Homo sapiens: one gene and its partners. The protein of the gene in region 7 purifies or fractionates together with the protein of the main gene of each other region. This does not show direct contact. Each region holds a gene or a part of one and is shown on either strand. Other genes may lie near its edges.

Region 1 (4,219 bases), on a different chromosome or scaffold from region 7:
CCACCCTTCATTGCTGGTTCAGAGCCAGCTCTGACCACATTCCTACCCTGAGATGGGACTCTGGGGACATTGTCCACCAGGGTCACTGACCCCTTTTAACGTTCCAGAAACATGGCCAGCTGGTCCCCTAGAAGTTTGGTATATGGGATAAGCCAAGGCTTGCCTTCAGCAACAGGTTTTCCACCACGTCACTGCCCAAGGCCCAGGGCATCCCCAAGTTCATGTGAAGCCTGCCTGCCATGTCCACAGCCCATACCGACCCCTCCTGGAGCCACTGGAATGCTTGTTCCTGGGCATGTGATGAACCCAGACAGCTTCCGCCTTGCAGGACAACTATGCGCATCTGGCAGCAGTAGCCAGAGGGCCCATAGAAAGAAGATGGAGGCAAAACCAGATGCTGTGAGAATACTTTATTAGTCAAAACCGCATACTATAAAAATGCTTTAAAACGCAGCAGGAGATGTGAAGACACAAATTAACAAGCGTATAGTGACACATGGCTGTCAGAACACAGTAAAGAATCCACACTGCTTCCCCCCTTTACCTAGAAAAGGAGAGTTCTAGGCCACCTCCTCCTCGGCATACTCCTCATCCTCCTCCTCCTCGGCCGTGGCATCCTGATATTGCTGATATTCAGACACCAGGTCGTTCATGTTGCTCTCGGCCTCGGTGAATTCCATCTCATCCATGCCCTCGCCCGTGTACCAGTGGAGGAAGGCCTTGCGCCTGAACATTGCTGTAAACTGCTCTGAGACACGCTTGAAGAGTTCCTGGATGGCCGTATTATTCCCAATGAAGGTGGCTGACATTTTTAGCCCCCGGGGTGGGATGTCACAGACGGCTGTTTTTACGTTGTTGGGGAGCCAGTCAGCAAAGTAACTGCTGTTCTTATCTTGAATGTTGAACATTTGTTCATCCACCTCCCTCATGGGCATGCGACCCCTGAAAATGGCAGCCGCCGTTAGGTAGCGGCCGTGACGGGGGTCACAGGCAGCCATCATGTTCTTAGCATCAAACATCTGCTGGGTAAGCTCAGCCACAGTCAAGGCCCGGTACTGCTGGCTGCCCCGGCTGGTCAGTGGGGCAAAGCCGGGCATGAAGAAATGCAGCCGGGGAAACGGGACCATGTTCACGGCCAGCTTCCGCAGGTCAGCATTCAGCTGGCCCGGGAAGCGCAGGCACGTGGTGACCCCACTCATGGTAGCAGACACCAGGTGGTTCAGGTCACCATAGGTGGGTGTGGGCAGTTTTAGGGTCTTGGAACATATGTCATACAGAGCTTCGTTATCTATGCAAAAGGTCTCATCTGCGTTTTCTATGAGCTGGTGGACTGAGAGGGTGGCGTTGTAGGGCTCCACCACGGTGTCCGACACCTTGGGCGAGGGCAGGATGCTGAATGTGTTTATGATCCTGTCTGGGTACTCCTCCCGGATCTTACTGAGCAGAAGGGTACCCATCCCAGACCCAGTCCCCCCACCCAGGGAGTGGGTCAGCTGGAAACCCTGCAGGCAGTCACAGCTCTCAGCCTCCTTTCTGACAACGTCCATCACTGACTCCATCAGCTCCGCGCCTTCGGTGTAGTGTCCCTTGGCCCAGTTGTTTCCGGCCCCACACTGACCTGTAAGACAGCACAGCCGGTCACTCGACGGCCAGGTATACGGTCATCAGTGGTCACCACCATAATGCAGAAAGAGCCAAGCGTCACACGTGAGGTGAGAGCACCGTTCGCCCTGCAGGTGGAGCAGATGAAACCCCCTCCCCCAGAGTTACAGGACAGCAGCTTCCCCTGTTAGGAATTAAGACAGGAGTCAAACCTGAGACGGGTTCACAGACCTCGCTGCAGGTGGCTCCTGCCCATTCTCAGGAAAGGCAGTAGCCACGGCCCCAGCTCAGGTTCTTGCAGGGAGTTTACATCAGTAACTCCTCACCTTGAGGAGACACCAGGGCCTTCCTCCCGAAGCCCATTTAGGAGAGGCAGATTGAGCGACTCGACTCGGAGGATAGGAGGGTGTTCAGGGGCCCTAGCTCCACAGTTCCCAGAGGATGACCTTAGCACACTCCTGGATTTTGAGCTGCCCTGGCTAAGGAGCCGCACCCCAGTCCTCGCCCGCAGCTCACCGAAGATGAAGTTGTCTGGCCTGAAGACCTGCCCGAAGGGCCCCGAGCGCACAGAGTCCATGGTGCCCGGCTCCAGATCCACGAGCACAGCGCGGGGCACGTACCTGCCACCTGCGTGGGGCGGGAGGGCATGAGCGAGGGGAGGGCCGCGTTCCCAGGAGGGCGGTGGGGGAAGGACGGGGGTCTCACCGCTGGCCTCGTTGTAGTACACGTTGATGCGCTCCAGCTGCAGGTGGCTGTCCCCGTGGTAGGTGCCAGCGGAGTCGATGGCATGTTCATCAGAGATCACCTCCCAGAACTGCAAGAGACGGGAGGAGACAGACAGGCCGGGGCTGAGTCAGGGAGGCGCCCCAGCCGCTCTCCCACCCCCACCCTCATCCGCACCCCCATCCCTAGGCCGCCCTGTCCCTGGGGTCCACCCCGGCCGCCTCGCCAGCCACCCGGTTCCACCGTCCCCGGCAGGGAGCCCAGGGGCCGCAATGCATGGGCACCGCCCCCGCCACTGCCAACACCTTCCCCGGCCACCCGGCAGGCCCGGGCTAGGCCCTCAGAGCCCCGGCTGCCAACCTTGGCGCCGATCTGATTCCCGCACTGCCCGATCTGCGTGAGCACGATCTCCCTCATGGCCAAGGCGGGATTAGGACGGCAGGAGAAACGTGAGAAGGAGGAGCAGACGCGCAGCGACCCAGCCCGCCCTCCGCCAACGTTTAAATAGCCCCGCGCCCACCTCCCTCCGCCTCGGATTCGGCTCCCAGAATAAGCAACAGCTTTACTTCCACACAGGTGCACCCACCTGTGGATCCCCTGGCGCTGAACATCTGTTGGAAAGCTCAGGTGTCCTTGCGTGGTCCTTTCCACGTTGGGGAAAGCTGCTCGCTGGAGAACTTCCTCCCGCGTCTTTAGTAAGACTAAATCCCTAGCTGAGCTGAAACTGAATTTTCCTCCCATGTGGGAGGGGAAGACTCTTGTTTCCATATGCACGGAGTGCCTTTGCACCTGTCCTAGATTGATGACATATTTTTGTAATTGATGAGTCTTTTCATCTATTAGGAGATCTGTGGTTAGGAAAGGCCTTCCACATGTGAACTCAACAGGACTCAATTATACGTTTTACTTTGGAGCAGTTCTAACCCACAATAAGCTATGGGTGTTAGAGACAGTCAGGCCTCTGATTTAGCTGGAGTCTTCTTTAGAGTAGGGTTAGCCCTTTCACCTTTCCAGAGGACTGTGGTCTCCAGCAGAGTGAAGGTCATATTGGATTCTTAAAGCTGAGGACAGGTTTTGGGATACGCCTGCTGTGAAAGATGGGCCATTGTCACTTTGCAGGCTTTTGGATTACCCAAACTGAGGAGTTATTTCTTCTGGTAAACATTTTTCAGATGGGGTGGGGAATGCCTCGATCTAACCAGTGAAGGTGTCAGTAAGCATTAGCAAATATTTGAATCTCCTGCAGAAAGGCTTCCGGGTAAATTAGAGTGGCCAGTTCTCACCTGGATAGGTTCCTCAATTTTGGACAGGTTTAACTGGAGAAGGAGAAAATTGCTGGCCATTTGAGTCATGTCAGGCACAAAGCTCACAGGGCTGAGTCACCTGTTTTAGTGTCTTGAAAAGATTTACCCCTATAAACAAATGAGACATTAACAGAAACAAAGAATCCCTTCTAGGGTGAAAAGAATCATGAAAGTGCTGAGTTATACTCCTGTGATTGGTACTTGGCATTAGTAATTTATTACCATCATTCAGCCCGAGGGGCCCTGGACTGAAATGCAATCCCTGGCCCATTTTCGTTCTTCTTCAGGGTATTCTGGCCCAGTTCTATGTATGCTGACCAGCACGCCCACAAGCTTCATTGGCCCTTTCAGTGCAGGGGCCTTGGCTGTGGCATCTACAAGGGCATTTCCTTTTACATGGTCAGTCTCTCTTTTGATGTCCTCTGCAATTAATTATACTCACTTTTTGGCAGCAAAGCAGCACTCTAACAAGCTCAAAATCTGAACGATGTTGTATGGAAAAGCCCTTGGGGGTCAGGAGTCCCCACCCATTCCAAATTGCAGCATAAGCATGAAGCACTAAAAAATCATACTTGGAATCAGTGTAAATG
Region 2 (3,500 bases), on a different chromosome or scaffold from region 7:
GAAGAATGAAATCATCTACTAAAGAAAACTAAATGTTATGCCCTATGGGGAAAGCATTAAGGGAGAGGGAGAAAAAAATGGAACAAGGAAAGCAAAGGACTGGCCGCAGCTCAGGGAGCAGGTGAGTGTGATCTGCAGTAAGAGGGTGGGTGGAAAGATAGGTGACAGATGGAAAAAAACATCTGGAGTACAACAGCAATCGCTGGAGGCCTGAATATGAGAGAAAAGACATTCAAGAATGCCACCTAGATTTCCTTCTTGAGTGCATTGATGGGAGAAAAGCCTAGAGAGCAGAGAAGCAGAAGGCAGATTAAGTACTTACAGGAGTTCAAGACTAGCCTAGGCAACATAGTAAGACCCCCATCTCTACAAAGAATAAAACAATTCACTGGGTGTGGTGGCATGCGCCTGTGGTCCCAACTTTGGGGGTGGAGCTGGGGTCCTGAGACAGGAGGATGGCTTGAGCCCAGGAGGTTGAGGCTGCAGTGAGCTGTGATTACAAGTGCTACAAAGTAAGCAAACAGCCTGGGTGAAACAATGAGTCCCTGTCTCAAGAAATAAAATAAAATTAGTATTTACAGAAAAACCATGAATTCAATTATTAATATGTTTGTTTGAGATATCTGTGAGTCATCCAGTTGTAGTCTGAAGCCCTGCCTGAGACAGTATGCTGTATCAGAACACAGTTGGGGTTATTCAGCCAGGGGAAGCGTCGAAAGAGGAGGGGCAATGAGTGAGTTCTCAGGGACAACAACATTTAGGAGTCAAGAAGAGAAAGAAGATAAAGTAAAAAAGATTTTTGTCTTTAATCTCAAGAAACTGATTGAAATATAGGAGGAAATAAAGCAGGATACAGGCAGACAAAAACAGTCCTAAAATGCTATCACCATAATCATTTTGTTTCATTAAATACTAAGTCACTTAAATTATTCTGGCAAAGGAAACATTTACAATTGCTTTTCACCTTTTTGTGAAATTAGAACGAATGTACATCTTAAATATGGAATGCATTCACTTGAACTTTTAAAATCAATTTCTTATTCTGGGTAGTAGCTGCCAAATCTCATCTACAGTAGACAAAAGCTGGCTGTACGAATTGCAGGGTTACAAAGAATCCTGCTTTCTGACACTTATCTTAAAAATCCACAAATTCAAAATAAAGACGTAACTCCCAACCAAACCACGCCCTATTTAATAGAGCTCCATGCAGTCATATCTGGCATCAGTAAAACACCAATGTTGGCTCTCTCCCATCACGGCAAAATGATTCTGGGTAGAAAATGAACTTAGTTTTCATTCAGCAAAAGTCTTTCATAAGAAAAAAAGAGGTTGGGCACAGTGGCTCATGCCTGCAATCCCAACACTTTGGGCGGCTGAGGCAGACAGATCACTTGAGGTCAGGAGTTTGAGACCAACATGGCAAAACCCCATCTCTACTAAAAATATAAAAATTAGCCAGGCGTGGTGGCATGAGCCTGTAATCCCAGCTACTCGGGAGGCTGAGGCAGGAGAATCACTTGAACCTGGGAGGTGGAGATTGCAGTGAGCCAAGATTGCGCCACTGCAGTCCAGCCTGGGCAACAGAGGAAAACTCTGTCTCAAAAAAAAAAAAAAAAAAATGCTATGAGTAAGAGAGTCCCCACCTCCCATAACTAAGAGAGCAGCTCGTCATCAAAACCCCATCGGTTCTTTTTCTAGAGCAGAGTTGGTTAACACAGTGAAACTCTGTGTGTGTGTGTGTGTGTGTGTGTGTGTGTGTGTATAAATTATAATATGTAAATTTATTACATATACAATTTTTTTTCTACGGGTCTAAAATTTGACCCCAAAATCACACAACTACCCCTTTTCATCAGAATTAAATGATTTTTGAGTGCATACTAGAACAAAAGAACAGTTCAGGTAAGTTTGCTTTTGAGGGTCAATATCTTGAATAGTGCTTGCTTGGGACATTGCCACAGTAGTCCTAATGAGAGTAATACAAGCACAGGTATGTACACGTTCTTAGTGTTGTAGATCATACCAGGTTCTACATCAGGATAGGAGAACTGGTTCTCAAGCTTTGCCTGGAAACCTACAAGCAAAAATCACTTCTGGGTTGTCTTCAAATAGTAGCTCACAGCAGTGGTCCCCAACCTTTCCTTCCCTGGACATAGAGGGGGATGCTTTCGGGATGAAACTGTCCAACTCGGATCACCAGGTATTAGGTTCTCATAAGAAGCATGTAACCTAGATCCCTTGCATGCACACTTCACAGCAGGGTTCACACAATAGGGTTTGCTCCTATGAGAATCTAATGCCACCACTGATCTGACAGGAGGCAGAGCTCAGGTGGTAATGCTCACTCTCCTGCTGCTCACTTCCTGATGTGCAGCATGGTCCCTAACAGGCTATGGACTGGTACTGGTCCATGGCCCGAGGGTTGGGGACCCCTGTCTTACAATATATTTTATAACTTTTTGGTCAAAACTATTCTGCCTACCTTATGATAAATTGCTTCTTTGAATGTAGGGTACTCTAATTCATCTTTTGCACCTGCCACATTATAAGAACTCAAGAAAAGTTTAAATGGACAGTGGAGTAACAAAGTAAATTCAATAGCTATGTCTCAATCTTAAAGTAGCCATATATAAATAAGTCATTTCCACTACGTCTGAACCCCTCAAGAATGCAGAAAGCATCCTCTATTAAACATCCAATTATTTAAATTACCCTTAAAACAATTTCCTTGTGTAACATCTCTACTTAATTTTGGGTTTCAGATACTTTCTTTACTTGGCACTATAAGACAGAGAGAGCTCGGAAGTTATTAGGAGAAGGCCTTCAACAAAGACAGAGAAAAAGAGCCCAGTAGGAGCATTCTCTGAATGAAAACACCACTCTATTGGCAGCACATAGCATGAGTTCCTTGAATAATACCAGGAACAAGCCTGTTGCTTTTCATCAGGCTATCTGCACATTATAGGCATGAAATGATGGTAATCAGGTGTACAAATGGATGTTCATTAAGTTTTCCTAAGCATACCTTCATGTGCAGACTTGCATACTGGTGAAATGCTACAGAAATGGCAGAATAATATAAAAGGAATGTGTCAATATCTACATGCTAAATTTGTGAGGGAAAAAAGCTGATGAAGTTTTTCATCCAAAATGCCATCTCGATATTAAAGTTATCATTAAGATATTTAAGTTTTTTAAAGAGAACAATGAAGAGATAGAGAAAGTAAAATGACCTTAGACATATGTTAAAGTCTTACGAGGAAGCTGTGTAGTGAAAAAGAAATACTTGCATAGAAAACTGGGTACAAGGTGATAAAAGATGCTATATAAAAAAATTAAGGAATAAAAAGCAACACAGGCCAGGCACGGTGGCTCATGCCTGTAATCCTAGCACTTTGGGAGGCCAAGGCAGGAGGATCACTTAAGGTCAGGGGTTCAAAACCAGCCTGGCCAACATGGTGAAACCCCATCTCTACTAAAAATACAAAAGTTAGCCAGAA
Region 3 (3,500 bases), on a different chromosome or scaffold from region 7:
AAGAAACATTTTAACTTTCAAATATCAAGCAGAATTGGTAAGTAGAGGAATTTGGACTTATTTCAATTAAGAATGGTATGTACTTGGTTTATGGTTTATGTATAAATAAATGATGCAAAGTTTTGTTTTGTTTATTGAAGAGTTTGAAAGTACTGCTTACTAGGGCAAGTATACACTGTACCTGAAATCTTTATATTGCTAGGTAAATTTGAACAGTTTATATGCCAACAATTATAATTTATTAATGAGCAGATTCCAAATATGGTCTTATTATGTCTTAAACACAGTAAAATTTTCCAAAGTAAAACAAGTATAATAAAAAGGAAACATACAATAGTAATCTCGCATTTATTTAAATTAAAAACAAATTTTTTTCTTTGGTAGAGACAGGGTCTATGTTGCCCAGGCTGTCCTCAAACTCCTGGGCTCAAGCGATCTTCTCACCTTGGCCTCCAAAAGTGTTGGGATTATGGGATTACAGGCATGAGCCACTATGCCTGGCCTCTCATTTTTTTCTTAACAAAGTGAATGAAATTACTTTAATTTAATGGTGCCACAATAATACTCCAAAGGATAAACAAAGTTACTTATCCTTGATTATCTGCTCTTACAAAATGATCTTGAATAGTAGTAGCTCAGGGTGTTAATTTGCCTACATCTACAATTTAAAGCAATCCATTTGTTTTATAAAAGGAAAATATAAATATGAGAAGGACAAATACTTTTAATTACTTTTCAAAAGTAGTAAGAGATTTACTTTATTAAATGTGTAGGGAGGTTATTTACTTCTTCCTGATTCGGACCATTTGACTCCAGATTTTAAAATTTCATTAGGCTTTATAAGCTGGTAGATGGTTAATGACTTTGAATGAAACCAAGTACTGCTTACAGAGACTCCATCATCTCATAAGTACTCCTTCTCCCCTACTGAAAAATACTTCATCATTGTGTATTTTATCAGGAAAATAAAAATGTAGAAGATGAAAGTCCCCTATAATTCTACCACCAAGGGTTAGTCACGCTTAAAATGGTGTATTTTCCATCTGTGTACTAACATACATACACATAACACCCTTTAAAACCAACAATGTAATCATAATACTATTTTACAATTTTTTTTTTTTCATTTTGAGACAGAGTTTTGCTCTGTCAACCAGGCTGGAGTGCAGTGGCATGATCTCGGCTTATTGCAACCTCTGCCTCCCAGGTTCAAGCAATTCTCCTACCTCAGCCACCCAAGCAGCTGGGATTACAGGCGCCCGCCACCATGCATGGCCTGCAATTTGTTTTTCACTAGTACATCTCGTAAATATTTTCAGGCCAGTATATACAGATATATCTCATTCTTTTCAATAGCTCTGTAATATTCTATTATATAGATAACAAATTTATTTAATTACTTTTTTCACTGGTGGACAGTGAATTGTTTCCATTTTTTCACTATTATAAATAAGGGTACAATGAATCATGTACTACTTTTTTTTTTTTTTTTTTTTGAGGCAGAGTCTCTCTATCACCCAGGCTGGAGTACAGTTGGTGCAACCTGGGCTCACTGAAGCCTCTGCCTCGTGGTTGAAGTGATTCTCCTGCCTCAGCCTCCCAACTAGCTGGGATTACAGGTGTGCGCCATCATGCCCGGCTAATTTTTGTATTTTTAGTAGAGATGGGGTTTCACTATGTTGACCAGACTGGTCTCAAACTCCTGACCTCAGGTGATCCAACCACCTCGGCCTCCCAAAGTGCTGGGATTACAGGCGTGAGCCACTGCACCCGGCCAGAGTCATGTACTTCTATATGTTTGTGTGAATGTTTATGTATGATAAATAGTCAATATCAAAGGATACAGGCACTAAAAAATCCAAAAAAGTCTATTTTTCCAAACTGTATTATAGAAACATTTTACTCATGTATGCTTCCACCAGCAAGAGCCAGAGCTGCTTTTTGTCATTTAACAACTGATTTCCTACGACAAGCCAGGTGCTAGAACTGAACTTAAGAGTTAATAATATGTAATTCAGGTCCTGAAGATACTTACATATCTTAATTGTGGAAGAATGACAAATTAAACAACTGCAACTCAATGTTGCTAAAAGAAGAATGCACAAAACATAATGAGAATACTGAGAAAAGGAATCTAACAAACTTTGTGGAGAGAAGAGGGGGATTAAAAGAAAGTATTTCCAAAAATTAGGCAGGCGTGGTGGCAGGCGCCTGTAGTCCCAGCTACTCGGGAAGCTGAGACAGGAGAATTGCTTGAAAAAAAAGAAAAAAAGAAAAGAAAAAAAGTATTTCACATAAGCAAAATCTTGATGGAGGCTGAAGGGCAGAAGTAAGGAAAGGACATGCCAACTACAAGAAACAGCACATGTAAAGCTTTGGTGGTACAGGGAGAACATTAAAAGTTGCTATAGCTGGCCGGGCACAGTGGCTCATGCCTGTAATCCCAGCACTTTGGGATGCCAAGGTGGGAGGATTGCTTGAGGTCAGTAGTTCGAGACCAGCCTGGCCAACATGGCGAAACTCTATCTATACAAAATATACAAAATTTAGCAGGGGGTGGTGGCACATGCCTGTAATCCCAGCTACTCAGGAGGCTGAGGCACGAGAATCGCTTGAGCCTGAGAGGTGGAGGCTGCAGTGAGCTGAGATCATGCCACTGCACTCCAGCCTGGAAAACAGAGACTCTGTCTCAAAAAAAAAAAAAAAAAAAAAGAGAATTTCTAAGAGGGAGCAGTATAAATGTAAACAGCAAGATAGGAAGTTATGTTGATATAAGTAAAAAATAAAACCTTCTTAGAGCAATAACTGCAAACAATTAAACTTTAGGATAGAAAAAACTATGTAAGTATGACTAGAAATCCAAATAGGAAAATAAAAAGACTTACTGTTAACATGTGAGTGTCTAATTCTGGAGGATCAATCAATCTAGCCACTGACTCCATAAACACAAAAAACGCTATTACTATTAGAAAAAGTCCATTAATAAATCCAGACAGAATTTCTATTCGGCCGTACCTAAAAACATAGAACATTTTTCAGAAAAGGAAAAGGACAAATATTTTTAAAGTATAAACTTTATAAATGAGGAAACAAGTCCAAATTTTCATACTACTAAGTAATTAATAATAGAAAATTAGCAATATTTTAAATATCATATTAATGCCTGGAAGGTCCTTCATATATATATACATATATATATATACACATATATATACACGTTATATATGAATATATATACGTTATATATGAATATATAACATTTTAACGAATATATACATTTGTTAAAATGTTATATATTCATCAAAGTCCTTCTTTACTCTCTTTTTTTTTTTTTTTTGAGACAGAGTCTTGCTCTGTCACCCAGGCTGGAGTGCAGTGGCACGATCTTGGCTCACTGAAAGCTCCGCCTCCTGGGTTCACACCATTCTCCTGCTTCAGCCTCCCGAGTAGCTGGGACTACAGGTGCCTGCCACTACGCCCGGCTAATTTTTTTTGTATTT
Region 4 (2,841 bases), on a different chromosome or scaffold from region 7:
GGAAATGAAGTAGTGGTTAGGAATAAAAACTTGTAAGAAGTTTGTTTGACAGTGAAAGGAAGGAATAATAGTCTCATAGATGAAGAGGAGAGCAAGAGACAGAACGTTTTTCCCAGCACAGAGAAAAACCTATGGGTGGTTAAAGGAAGTGGTAAAGGAGCCAGGAGATGACTGGAGGTGTTGGAGAAAACAGATGTAAGGGTGCAAACCAGAATGCAAAAGACTTGAGAAGAGATGGCATCAGCAAACCACCTCATCACTGTAGCCAAACTAATGCAGGGTCGATCATCTGAATGTCCAAAGCCAAGAGTCTCCTCTTCCTGAATATGAGTAGGAATTAGAGGAGTAACCAACCTGTCTAACCAGGTAACTAAAGCTGCTTTTGTGTGAAATAACCGTTGGGAACAATTGGAACTGTGTGAGACAAATAAAAGCCAGGTGGCTCCTGGGAAACCTGCCTTAAGGGGAATCCACACCAACTTTAAGTGTAGCTGAGGTGTCACAACAGCATCTGGGGCTAGCCTTAAAGTGGAAAAAAAAAATCACACTTTTTCTCCCACTGATGAAGGCAAGCCCTAGAAAATAGAGCTTTGTAAGTTAGACACTACAATTCACTGGTTTCATATAGAAAACTAATTACAAAGGCATCCTTATGATGCCAAAAATTAGGGACTCTATTAGGTAACTGAACTATGTTTTCCAAAGTATAAAAACTTGCCTCTAGACTTGGAAGTTATATGTAGCCTGCTTGAGACCAAAACTCAAAGGCAGAGACACATCTGGCTAATTATTAATCCAGAACTCTCTCTGAAGTCAGCATTATTTTCAAAGAAAATGGTTGGATATAGCCAAGAGAACATGTAATATTTAACTGATTATAGAGAACACACATAGAAAACTACATTTTAAATGAAAAATCTTCAAATAATGCTCATGGTCTTTATATACTGTTTCATAAAAGCTGGGAAAGACTCTTATTCAAATTCTTGGCAGTGAAATATTGCTAGAGTGACAATTAAACAGTTAGATTTGACAGAAACCAATTCCTGAATTCTCAAAATCTGAACTTAACCCCTCATTCCTATTTCTCCCCAAAGACCTCAGCCCATAGCATAAGCCAGAAACAAGCATCTCCTTTTTACTTTCTTTTTAAAAATGCAGACACCATTGCTGCTGGGCACATTATAAGCATCATTTGTAGATGAGGCCTATAGTTAGGTTCAATTAGATTCAAAGAGAAGCTGTTTCACAGAATACAAGTCTCCCATTCTTCAACAGAGATGTGGGCTGCTTTTAAACGGCAAGCTCTACAAGAGAGGGCTTATGAAAATCCCTTTCTGTAGCCAAGATGGACACTGTCCTTTCCCTGACACACCAAGCACCAAATCCTCATTTGGAATCTAGCAAATCTCTCAAAAATTTTAAAATCAAAACCAGAAACCCAAGTTTCCATAGAGAACTGGCTAAAAATTGGTATGCAATCATAGCAAGTGACTCAGCACTGCTACAATTACTTCAAGCCATGAACTTGATGCGTCCAAGATTAAGGAGCCTATCAAAATGCACCCAAGTTTCAGGCTGCTTAGTAATAACTATTGTCCTGCCACGAATCCCCATTACTGGTAGAAATTTGACCCAGACACAATTTTAAAAATGCTTACAAGTGAACTGAGACTCCCAGTCACTCAGAGTCTCCTGCTGGGCAGCAGTGAGGTCAGAAAGGTCATCGTACTCATCCTTCAGTGCTTCCTTATCCAGGCAAAATGTGGCAAGGCCCCTGGATGCATCTCTTCCAGCAAAGACCCCATACGGCCCCTCTTCAAAAACAAAACCAAAGATCAATTCTTTATTAGACAGTCAATTTCTCTGTGATTTATACACAGAAAATGGCTTCCCTATTCATCAACATAGCCCCATTTTTGAATATCAAATTCCATTAGGAAACCATAGTAATGCTGATATTCTGAACATTATGTAGGAGACACAGAAAGACCTGTTGTCATTTAACTTTTAAATAACTAAAAGTAAATCAAACTGCTATACATTTGCGTCAGTCTCCTGTGGTTTCCAAATAGCTAGTAAAAAAGTCATACGTGGTTAGTGATCTCTTGGGGTAGTGGTAGTAGGGAATCATACAAGAACATTGAACTGGGAGCCTGACAGTTCTAGGCACTTGGGGCTACACCAGTGAGAGTTATGGTTTCTTAAGATAATAAGCACTGATGTGTACATGAAAACACATTTCCTTATGAATATATTCTGATATGTTTTAATGAAACAAAGGTATCTTATAGAGATCTTTGGTTCCAAGGCTCAATTAAACATTAACTCATGGCATCTGCAGAAGAACCATTTTATAACAGTATCGGTGGTTTAAAAATCTATCCACATTACATAACCTTCACTGTCAATAAATAGATAACACAGAGATCAGTCTTCATTATCTGTTTTTTGGTGGGCTTGAGAAGACTGTGAAAATACTAAAATTTTCATGGAAAAGAGGCTGAATCAATACTGCAAAACAACTCTATAAAACAACTCTATAAAATGTGATTATTTGTGATATTATACTGAACTTTTGTCTAAGAGAGCAGAGAATCATTCTGTGGGTACACAAAGTGGATATTTAGACTTATTTAAATATTGCACAACTAAATGAAGAGAATCCAGTGTACTTTAAACAATGTGTTGTTTCCCCCAAGGCAGATTGAATAGCAGCCCTGACATTAAAATGTTTGTAGGGAACCAAGTATGAGAATAGATCAAGTTTCAATATGGCCTGTTCACCTGAAACCTCAATACACTCAGAAATTTTTTACAAATTTTACAACTTTTAAATGC
Region 5 (2,538 bases), on a different chromosome or scaffold from region 7:
TCACGGAGTGAGCTCAGTCCAGGTGGGTAAGGGAAGGGGCTGCTCTGTGCCCCTTGGACTTGTCCCCAGCCTCAGGTGCTAGTGCCCTCTTCCTGCAGCCAGCCCAGGCCTGGAGCCTGCATCTCCTCCTGCTCAGCCAAGCCCGTGTGGGGGCCCCTCCTCTCCCTCACTGGGCACTGGCACCTCTTTCCTAGGCTGAGTGGTCTCTGGGGAAGGCACAGGTGGAATGACAGGGGCAGATTCCAGTCCTTGCCCTCTGTCCTCTGCGAATAGGGCTGTTCATGACAGTGTTGGGCAGGGAGTCTTTTTCCTCCTCTGCCCTTGCCTCTCTGTACACCTGCCTCCCTCTGTGTTTGTTCCTTTGCCTTGCAGCAGCTCCCTTCCTCCCCTTTCGTCTCCTGCCCTTCCTGGTGGGCTGTTTCTCTTCTGGCTTCTCCAGGTGTTCCTCTCTTCTCGGCCACCGTGTGTTCTGCCCTGGGAGTCCTTCAGCCCGGGCTGCCTCTTTTCCTACCCAGCCCCCTGTCCAAGTGCCCCCAGGTGTGCCTAGTCACGCTCTGCTCACCCCCGCGCTCTCTCTGCAGTGATACCCAGCGCCGCAACCCTCATCATTGTGGTGTGCGTGGGCTTCCTGGTGCTCATGGTCGTCCTGGGCCTGGTGCGCATCCATTCCCTTCACCGCCGCGTCTCAGGGGCCGGCGGGCCTCCAGGGGCCTCCAGTGACCCCAAGGACCCAGACCTCTTCTGGGATGACTCAGCTCTCACCATCATTGTGAACCCCATGGAGGTGAGAGGCCTGGGGAAGCGGGGTTCTGTAGGGTCAAGACTGTGGAGCACACACGGTGAGGACTCCTGAGGAGGGGCAGGCCTGGGTGGAGGCTGTTCGCAGAGCTGCAGTGAGCCGGAGGGAGAGAGGTTCAGGCAGGGAAGGGGGTACACAGGGGTTAAGGGGACCGAGGGAAGTGTGGTCCCTGAAAGAGAGGCTGGGATGTGTGCAGGCCATTGATCCCTTCTCCTCTCTGTTCCTGCCCTCCAGTCCTACCAGAATCGGCAGTCCTGTGTGACGGGGGCTGTTGGGGGCCAGCAGGAGGATGAGGACAGCAGTGACTCGGAGGTGGCCGATTCCCCCAGCAGCGACGAGAGACGCATCATCGAGACCCCCCCACACCGCTACTAAGGCCTACACCTCTCCCCACGCAGAGGGGGAATTCTGCCCTGGTGAAACAGACACTCCAGACATGGGAGAAGGACTTTCTGGGAACACAGAGACCAAGAGGGAGAGAGGCTTCAGAACCAGTCCTCCTTTCATTTCAAAACCCCAGCGGGCCCTCTGGAGTCCGCCCTGCCCCTCCCCCGGCCCCCCATCCCTCACTTCTGGGCTGTCATGCTCCTGGTGTGCCCCTTGCACTGGGGCTGGCTGGGTTGGAAAGTGGGCTGGACTTCAGCTGCCTTTCTACCCCCAATGGCAGCTGCCCCCTTAGCACTCACTGTGTTGGGGAGAGGGTGACGATTGCAATGGCTGGGGCTGGGGCTGGGGGTGGGATTGAAGGAAACCCTCTCCTCTCCCCTTCCCTTCTCTCTCCTGTCCATGGGAAGCTTTTCCCCCTCTGCAGGGCTCCCTCAGCTGGACCATCGTCCCTGCTTCTCTTATGATCGCCCCACCTCATTTCCATTTCAGTCTGGGGACCCCATTTCTCCCTCCTTTCCAACTTCCTTCCTTTCTTGTCCTGTTTCCCTTCCTGCCCTTGCAGTCCTGAGGTCCTGCAGCCCCGGCCCCTCCTCCGTGACCTGGTGTGGCCAGGCTGCGGGGACGGGAGGGGACGTGGGGGCCCCGGGTGTACATATATAATGTATATTTTTTCAATGTTGTCGTGAGTGCAGCCCATGTTCCTGCGTGCAGCTCACGGCCTTGTGTGTATGTGTGTGTGTGTGTGTGTGTGAGGCATCGTCATGTCCTGGGGCAGGGGCGGGGGGTTGGGTGTGGTGAGGGAGGGGACATATCCTAGGGTTTTCAAATAAAACAATCAGAAAAAAAAAAAAAGCTCTGTGAGGCGCCTCCTGACTGCCTGGTCCTGTGTGGGTGTGGTGGAGGCTCTGGGGCCTCAGGGGCTGTTTGGGTCTCTGCACAGAGCTGAAGTGAGGTGGGCAGGGCTGGTGATCTTGGGGGCCTGACCAGGTAAGTCCCCAGGATGCCAGATCACCTGGAAAGTAAGCTGGGGGCAGATGGTTCCCACGCCTCCCTTCCTTCAGCACCCCCTGGAAAAGTACAGAAGATTCAGGGAATGCTATGGACACCTGGGCAGATGCCCAGTGCCTTGCAGGGGTGCTGCCAACCCCGCCCCACAACTTGGAACATTTTGCCTGTGCACATGGGCTCCCTGCTGGGCGGCCCCAGGGAGAAGGCAGGCAACCCTGCTGTTTGTACCAAAGGGATCTGGAGACTGTTCCCAGGCTGACCCTTTCCTGCTAGCCAAGGCTCAGACCCAGGGGATGTCTGCCTGCCTTGCCCATGTCCTTGTGGCTGCCTCACATGGCTGCTTA
Region 6 (3,500 bases), on a different chromosome or scaffold from region 7:
GAAAGCAAGACCTTGTCTCAAAAACAAAAAGTGGGAGCGGTCCTACTTCTGAAATGGCAGCATGAGGGATTTCGCACACTCCACAGGGAAACTCCATTACTGATGAAAATTTAAAAACACAAAGCATGGCTGGGCGCGGTGGCTCACACCTGTAATCCCAGCACTTTGGGAGGCCGAGGCAGGTGGATCACCTGAGGTCAGGAATTCGAGACAAGCCTGACCAACATGGAGAAACCCCATCTCTACTAAAAATACAAAATTAGCCAGCCTTGTGGCACATGCCTGTAATCCCAGCTACTCGGGAGGCTGAGGCAGGAGAATTGCTTGAACCTGGGAGGCCAAGGTTGCGGTGAGCCGAGATCGCACCATTGCACTCCAGCCTGGGCAACAAGAGTGAAACTCTGTCTCAATACAAACAAACAAACAAACATAAAGCATTTAAACTCTTTGGAAATTTTCCTAAGGACATATAACAAATGAAGAAATGTTTACTCAAGAAAATCTACTAAATCTTTTTTTTTTTTTCAGACAGGGTCTCACTGTGTCACCCAGGCTGGAGTGCAGTGGCATGATCACAGCTCACTGAAGCCTCAACCTCCTAGGTCCAAGCAATCTTCCCACTTCAACCTCCCAAGGTAGGACTACAGGTGTGTGCCACCATATCCAACTAATTTTTACAAATTTTTTTGTAGAGACAGGGTCCCGCTATGTTGTCCAGGCTTTCCAGGGCTCAAGCAATCCTCCCACCCAAAGTGCTGGTATTACAGGTGTGAGCCACCATGCCCAGCTACTAAATCTTGAATAGTGAGAATTTGCAGCACTTGAACCATGACATGCTCCCTCAATCTATGCCCCAAACCCCTACCCCACAGCTCAGTTAGACTAAAGCTCCACTCCAGCAGGTAAGCGTAGTTAAAAAAAAAAAAAAAAAAAGTGGGGTGGGGCGGTGGAGGGGGAGGGACTTCCTATTCTCTCAACATCCAGTCATGAGATATGATATATGGTATTTTACCAGGAGGGCCACCAGCTCCAAGATACAGCAACTAAATTCCTGAAAAAGATCAAGGGCTCCCTTCCTCCACTCAGCCCCACCCACAGGGCAGAGGCTTTACCTCAAGTGCAGTGGGACAAAAGTATCGGGGCCCTGATTGCCCTCACGGAAGCTTGCTCAGAGAGTGGAGGTTTCACAAAAGGAGATGCAAACCGAGAGAGCAGAGGTTGTCATCCCTGCCTAGCTCCCTGCTCATAAAGCAGGAATGTCCTTCCAAGTGAAGCAAGCCATTATTCCTGACCCCAACTCCAGAGCAGGGCCTCGGGGATTTTGCCCAGGGGGAGAGGCAGTCCGTAAGAATACAGGGCTCCAAAACATTCTCCAAAGGACCTGACTTAATATGAAACAGAGTATGGGGAAATTCAAGCCTATAGGCACTTCAAAAATGTAGAGATTTTGGCAGGAGGCAATTAAAAGGAGGCTGATTGCTCCATGATAGCAACAGGCTAAACCTTGGGACAGCTAGTTTAACAGAGAGAACCAGGGAAAGGGCAACTGAGAGCCGTCCTGGACTCAGAACAAACCTATATATTGCCCTCAAAAACTAGCCCGACAAAGGGGCCCACAATTAACTGGACTAAACTATGGAACAACTTATGCCCCACATGTCAAAAACAATAAAGCAATTAGTTGGCAATGAATGGAGCCTAACAGCTGGGGGTGATACCAGCAGAGGCAGATGGCTTAACAAATTCATGAAAGAAACAGTCAAAAAGCCTGCTGAAACCACTGTCATCTAGTGTGGCTGTGTGCAGGGCCAAGACCGTGCACTCTGAGAAGAGACACTAGAGGCTTCATGTTGTGAGGGGGAGACTGAATGCAAGTAGTGCAGCCAAGTCACTGAACAAATGAACAAACAAAAGCCATGGGGTGGAGGGCAGGAATTTCTATCTGGAGTTACTACAACATACTATCTAAAATGTCTGATTTTCAACAATTATGAAACATGCAGAAACAGTAAAGTATGAAACATATATAGGAAAATATGCAGGCAACAGAAACCACCTGTGAGAGGGCCCAGATGTTGGATCTCACAAAGAGTTAAAAGTAGCCATTATATTAATAAATATATTCAAAGAATTAAGAATTTAAGTCACACAAAGTGTGTTCTCTGACCATAATGGAATAAAATTAGAAATGAATGAGGAAAAAAATTTGGAAATTCAGAAATATGTAGAAATTAAACAATATACTCATTAAGTAACCAGTGAGTTAAAGGAAAAAAATCAAAAGAAAACTATAAAATACCTCAAAAATGAACGAAAATGAAGACATAACATATCCAAACTTACAGGATGCAGCTGAAGTAGTGCTTAGAGGGAAATTCATAGCTATAAACATCAATTTTTTAAAAACAAAATCTTGACTCCATAATCTACCCTTCTATCTTAAGAAACTAGAAAAAGAAGAACACACTAAACCAAGAGCCAGCAGAGGGAAAGACTACAGACTAGGACAAAAATAAATGAAATAGAGAACAGGAATACCATCCTATGTGTCCAAAGACAGGGAACCACAGATACACCTTTGTAGGGAGTTTATATATGTTTTTAAGTTTCTGTAATAAAAAGTTTAAAAAAGACAATCTTTAAATATCCATAACTTGCACCTGGCAATTATGCTTTTTTTGCTTACTTTCTTTTTCTTCTTTTTTAATAGATGCAGGGTCTTGCTCTGTTGCCCAGGCTGGTCTCAAACTCCTGGGCTCAAGTGATCCTCTCTCCTCAGCCTCCCAAAGTGTTGGGAATATTGGCATTAGCCACTGTGCCCAGCCCAATTATATGTAAGATATATTTACACATGCATATATGTACAATGTAATAATCATTTGTGACAACAAAAGAATTGGGGGTGGAACTATTTCAACCAGTAGAATAATGGTGACAAAATGATGGAACACACAATGGAATTTTATGCAGCTATAAAAACAAAAAAGGGCCAGGCATGGTGGCTCATGCCTATAATCCCAGCACTTTGGGAGGCCAAGGAGGGCAGATCACGAGGTCAAGAGATCAAGGCCATCCTGGTCAACATGGTGAAACTCCATCTCTACTAACAATACAAAAATTAGCTGGGTGTGGTGGCGCACACCTGTAGTCCCAGCTACTCGGGAGGCTGAGGCAGGTGAATCCCTTGAACCCGGGAGGTGGAGGTTGCAGTGAGCAGAGATCGCGCCACTGCACTCCAGCCTGGGTAACAGAGCAAGACTCCGTCTCAAAAAAAAAAAAAAAAAAAAAAAAAAGATATACTGCCATTGAAAGATCTCTCTAAGGTTTATTGTCCAGGGAAATAAAAGCAAGGTATAGAACAGTGTGTTTAATTTACTATATATTGTTTATAAATAAAGGGGAAAGGAAATAAGAATCTCCATTCATAATTGTTTGTAATCACACAAAAAGGCTGGAAGGATACATGCAAAACTAAGACCAGGGTTAACCTGTGGGGCTGG
Region 7 (3,500 bases):
AGTAAGAGGCAGAGCTTGGATTCGAATCCGCATCATCAGGCTTGAGCTCTGTGCTAGTAACCTAGCTCCTCTGCCCTTCCCCCTAGCCTCTCCTAGAAGAAGACCATTTTGGGTCTCCACGAGGCTGGTGAGGACAGCAGAGGGGCAGAATGGGCTGTGATGGACTGACGAGGACTTCTGGTCCCCTGGGTCCCTCAGGAGTGGGTGGTAATTTGGACAAGAAGGACAGGTGGCCCCGATCAGGTGACCCCAGTCCAGCGCACCTGCTTGAGCGTGAGGTTGAAGAAGGAGTCGTGGAAGTCCCACTGCAGGATGTCTCCGTGAGTCTGTGCCTCCAGCTCCAGCAGCCGGTTGACCTTGCGGGCCTCGTGCGGGTTGGAGGCTGTGCCCACCAGGAAGAGGAGGCGCAGCTGCAAACCCCGTACCTTGCGCTCGCGGCCCCACGTGCGCCGCAGCAGCTCGCGGCGCACATAGTTGCTAGGGGAGGACTTGATCACCAGCAGCAGGAAGACCGGCTGCGCGCACTTAGAGGGGGGCACGTCCTGCAGCAGGGGAAAGTGGCGGCAGTGTCTGTACAGGAGGAAGTTCTGAACGTGCTGCGGCTGCGTGGCGAAGTCCGGGTGGGTGACCATAGAGGTGTTGGCATGGCACGGGGCCGGGGCTGGGCGGGTGGGTGGAGTGGGCCAGGCCAGGGCCTCGGGGATCGCCGGTGGCTGCTCCTGGACCTTGCAGGTGGGTGGTGACACTAGCAGACTGAAGAGGAGGAGGGTGAAAGCGCCGATGGCCAGAATGAGGGTGGCATTGGGCCGCCGGTGCCGGAGATACTTCATCCTGGCCAGCCAGGGTCTGGGGTCGGCCTGAGGAGCCTCCTGGGCGGCTCCTGTGGAAAACAAAACTCACTGAACACTCGCCATGAGCAAAGCGCTTTTCCTGTGGCCCCCAACATCTGGTTGCACCTGTACAGTTGCTCAGGTTGGCAAAATATTGAAATTCACCCCCCACTTAACTCCTCCACCCCTTGCAAGACCCATTTCAAAGCACTCCAACCCCTGTTGGCTCTGACAGGTGCCCTGGCCCTCCCTGCTGGGGATTAATTTTTTAAATTTTTTAATTTTGTTTTTTTTTTTTGAGACAGCGTCTCTCTCTCTCTCTCTCTCTTGTTCTGTTGCCCAGGCTGGAGTGCAGTGGTGTAATTTCCGCTTACTGCAGCCTCCACCTCATGGGTTCAAGCGATCCTCCTGCCTCAGCCTCCTGAGTAGCTGGGATTACAGGTGTGAGCCACCATGCCTGGCTAATTTTTTTGTATTTTTAGTAGAGACGGGGTTTTACCATGTTGGCCAGGCTGGTCTTGAACTCCTGACCTCAAGTGATCCACCTGCCTCGGCCTCCCAAAGGGCTGGGATGACAGGCATGAGTCACTGTGCCCTGCCTTTCTGTGTGAAGTCTTAGTTTCCTTATTAGGACATGGGGGTGCTGAGGTTCCTGCTCCAATACACACACACACACACACACACACACACACACACTGGGGCCACTGCTCCCTGACTGCAAAAGGGCTTGATGCATATTAGCTGTGTGGTGACCGCCTCAGTGACCATGAGTCCACCATCCTGGCTACCTTGATTCCCCAGCTATTCCCACTTACAGCATGGAGCAGTATCAGAACCCAGGACTTTTTTTTTTTTTTTTTTTTCTTGAGATGGAGTTGCCCAGGCTGGAATACAGTGGCACAATCTCGGCTCACTTCAACCTCCGCCTCCTGCATACGAGCGATCCTCCTGCCTCATCTTTCAGAGTAGCTGGGACTACAGGCACGCGCCACCACGCCCAGTTAATTTTTGTATTTTTAGGAGAGACAAGGTTTCACCGTGTTGGCCAGGATGGTCTCGATCTCCTGACCTCATGATCTGCCCACCTTAGCCTTCCAAAGTGCTGGGATTACAGGCATGAGCCACCGTCCCCAGCCGGAACCCAGAACTTTGATGGGTGCAGTATGCCCATCTCATACGTCCCTCAACTCGGGGTCACTGGGAGACTCCCTTCCAACACCTCAGGGCCTCCCAGAATCTGTCACAAGGGACTGCGTCATGGATGGCACCAAACATCCCTCAAAGAGAACCTGGCCAACTCTCGGCCACCTGGGGCACAGACAGGTGAATATCCGTGAACGTGCATGAGTCCAATCCTGTTAACTGTCACAGTGCTCATCAGCCCTAGAGTGTTAACTGAGCACCTACTGTATGCTAGATGCTGGGGATACAGCTGTGACCAAGCCAGCCCTGCCCTCAATATAACAATAAGTAGAACAGCTTGGGCAGCATGGTGAAACCCCGTCTCTACAAAAAACACAAAAATTAGGCTGGGCGCAGTGGCTCACACCCATAATCCCAACACTTTAGGAAGCCAAGGCAGGTGGATTACTTGAGGTCAGGAGTTCAACAGCAGCCTGGCCAACATGGGGAAACCCACTCTCTACAAAAAAAAAAAAAAGAAAATACAAAAATTAGCCAGGCATGGTGATGGGTGCCTGTAGTCCCAACTACTCGGGAGGCTGAGGCAGGAAAATCACTTGAACCCAGGAGGTGGAGGCTGCAGTGAGCTATGATCACACCATTGCACTCCAGCCTGGATGACAGAGAAAGACTCTGTCTCAAAACAAAACAAAACAAAAAATTAGCAGGCTGTGGTAGCATGTGCTTGAGGTCTCAGTTACTTGGGAGGCTGAGGTGGGAGGACCACCTGAGCCCAGGAGTTCAAGGCTGCAGTGAGCTATGATCACACCACTGCACTCCAGCCTGGGCAACAGAGCAAGATGCTGTCTCAAAAAAAAAAATTGTAAATGATACTAACAATTAGTGACAGCCATACTAATTGTTACTGAGGCAGGTCCACAGGGGACCTGAGCAACCTAGGATCAGGGAGGTCCTGAAGGATGATGGGAATTCACTTGAGCAGACTGTGGGGAAGGGCATTCCAGACAGAGTGGAGCATGTGCAAAGGCCCTGAGATGGATACAAATTTAGGGTGCTGGTGGCAGAGCGAGGAGGCTGACGTGGTTGGGACAGGGCGAGAGAAAGGAGGTGATGGTGGAGTTATGGGACCCTGCTAGGGTACAAGAATAGAATGGGCACGCCAGAAAGAATGTCTTATGTTTCCTGTGAGAAGCAATGAGGAGCCATGGAGGGTCTATGAGCAGGGGAGGGATCAGATTGATTTATGCCTTTAAGAAGTCCCCTGTGGGCTGGGCAAGGTGGCTCAGGCCTATAATCCCAGCACTCTGGGAGGCTGAGGTAGGAGGATCGCTTGAGCTTAGGAGTTTGAGACCAGCCTGGGCAACATGGTGAAACCCCATCTCTACCCAAAATACAAAAGTTAGCCGGCGTGATGATGCATACTTGTAGTCCTAGCTATGCGGGAGGTTGAGGTGGGAGGATTGCCTGACCCCAGGAGTTTGAGGCTGCAGTGAGCTATAATCACACCACTCCAGCCTGGGCAACAGA

What was found.
Region 1: the proteins of B3GNT3 (region 7) and TUBB8 purify together in Homo sapiens (affinity purification with mass spectrometry; 2 studies listed by BioGRID and IntAct, with this or other methods). This does not show direct contact.
Region 2: the proteins of B3GNT3 (region 7) and ITGAV purify together in Homo sapiens (affinity purification with mass spectrometry; one large-scale study listed by BioGRID and IntAct). This does not show direct contact.
Region 3: the proteins of B3GNT3 (region 7) and SLC30A5 purify together in Homo sapiens (affinity purification with mass spectrometry; 3 studies listed by BioGRID and IntAct, with this or other methods). This does not show direct contact.
Region 4: the proteins of B3GNT3 (region 7) and PGRMC1 purify together in Homo sapiens (co-immunoprecipitation; 3 studies listed by BioGRID and IntAct, with this or other methods). This does not show direct contact.
Region 5: the proteins of B3GNT3 (region 7) and CLSTN3 purify together in Homo sapiens (affinity purification with mass spectrometry; one large-scale study listed by BioGRID and IntAct). This does not show direct contact.
Region 6: the proteins of B3GNT3 (region 7) and OS9 purify together in Homo sapiens (affinity purification with mass spectrometry; one large-scale study listed by BioGRID and IntAct). This does not show direct contact.

What each region holds. Positions count from the first base shown.
Region 1 is NC_000010.11:46,497-50,715, forward strand, and holds TUBB8 (tubulin beta-8 chain), read right to left. Parts: upstream 2,801-4,219; 5' UTR 2,743-2,800; coding exon 2,686-2,742; intron 2,417-2,685; coding exon 2,308-2,416; intron 2,230-2,307; coding exon 2,119-2,229; intron 1,963-2,118; exon of another isoform or gene 1,929-1,962; intron 1,787-1,928; coding exon of another isoform or gene 1,619-1,786; coding exon 561-1,618; 3' UTR 392-560; downstream 1-391. UniProt on the Homo sapiens protein: Tubulin is the major constituent of microtubules, a cylinder consisting of laterally associated linear protofilaments composed of alpha- and beta-tubulin heterodimers.
Region 2 is NC_000002.12:186,596,556-186,600,055, reverse strand, and holds part of ITGAV (integrin alpha-V isoform 1 preproprotein), read right to left. Parts: intron 1-3,500.
Region 3 is NC_000005.10:69,118,014-69,121,513, reverse strand, and holds part of SLC30A5 (proton-coupled zinc antiporter SLC30A5), read right to left. Parts: intron 3,016-3,500; coding exon 2,886-3,015; intron 1-2,885. UniProt on the Homo sapiens protein: Together with SLC30A6 forms a functional proton-coupled zinc ion antiporter mediating zinc entry into the lumen of organelles along the secretory pathway.
Region 4 is NC_000023.11:119,239,285-119,242,125, reverse strand, and holds part of PGRMC1 (membrane-associated progesterone receptor component 1), read right to left. Parts: intron 1,818-2,841; coding exon 1,662-1,817; intron 1-1,661. UniProt on the Homo sapiens protein: Component of a progesterone-binding protein complex. Binds progesterone. Has many reported cellular functions (heme homeostasis, interaction with CYPs). Required for the maintenance of uterine histoarchitecture and normal female reproductive lifespan.
Region 5 is NC_000012.12:7,156,908-7,159,445, forward strand, and holds the end of CLSTN3 (calsyntenin-3 precursor), read left to right. Parts: intron 1-581; coding exon 582-784; intron 785-1,033; coding exon 1,034-1,174; 3' UTR 1,175-2,038; downstream 2,039-2,538. UniProt on the Homo sapiens protein: Postsynaptic adhesion molecule that binds to presynaptic neurexins to mediate both excitatory and inhibitory synapse formation.
Region 6 is NC_000012.12:57,711,132-57,714,631, reverse strand, and holds part of OS9 (protein OS-9 isoform 1 precursor), read right to left. Parts: intron 1-3,500. UniProt on the Homo sapiens protein: Lectin component of the HRD1 complex, which functions in endoplasmic reticulum (ER) quality control and ER-associated degradation (ERAD).
Region 7 is NC_000019.10:17,805,138-17,808,637, reverse strand, and holds part of B3GNT3 (N-acetyllactosaminide beta-1,3-N-acetylglucosaminyltransferase 3), read right to left. Parts: intron 881-3,500; 5' UTR 831-880; coding exon 264-830; intron 1-263. UniProt on the Homo sapiens protein: Beta-1,3-N-acetylglucosaminyltransferase involved in the synthesis of poly-N-acetyllactosamine. Has activity for type 2 oligosaccharides.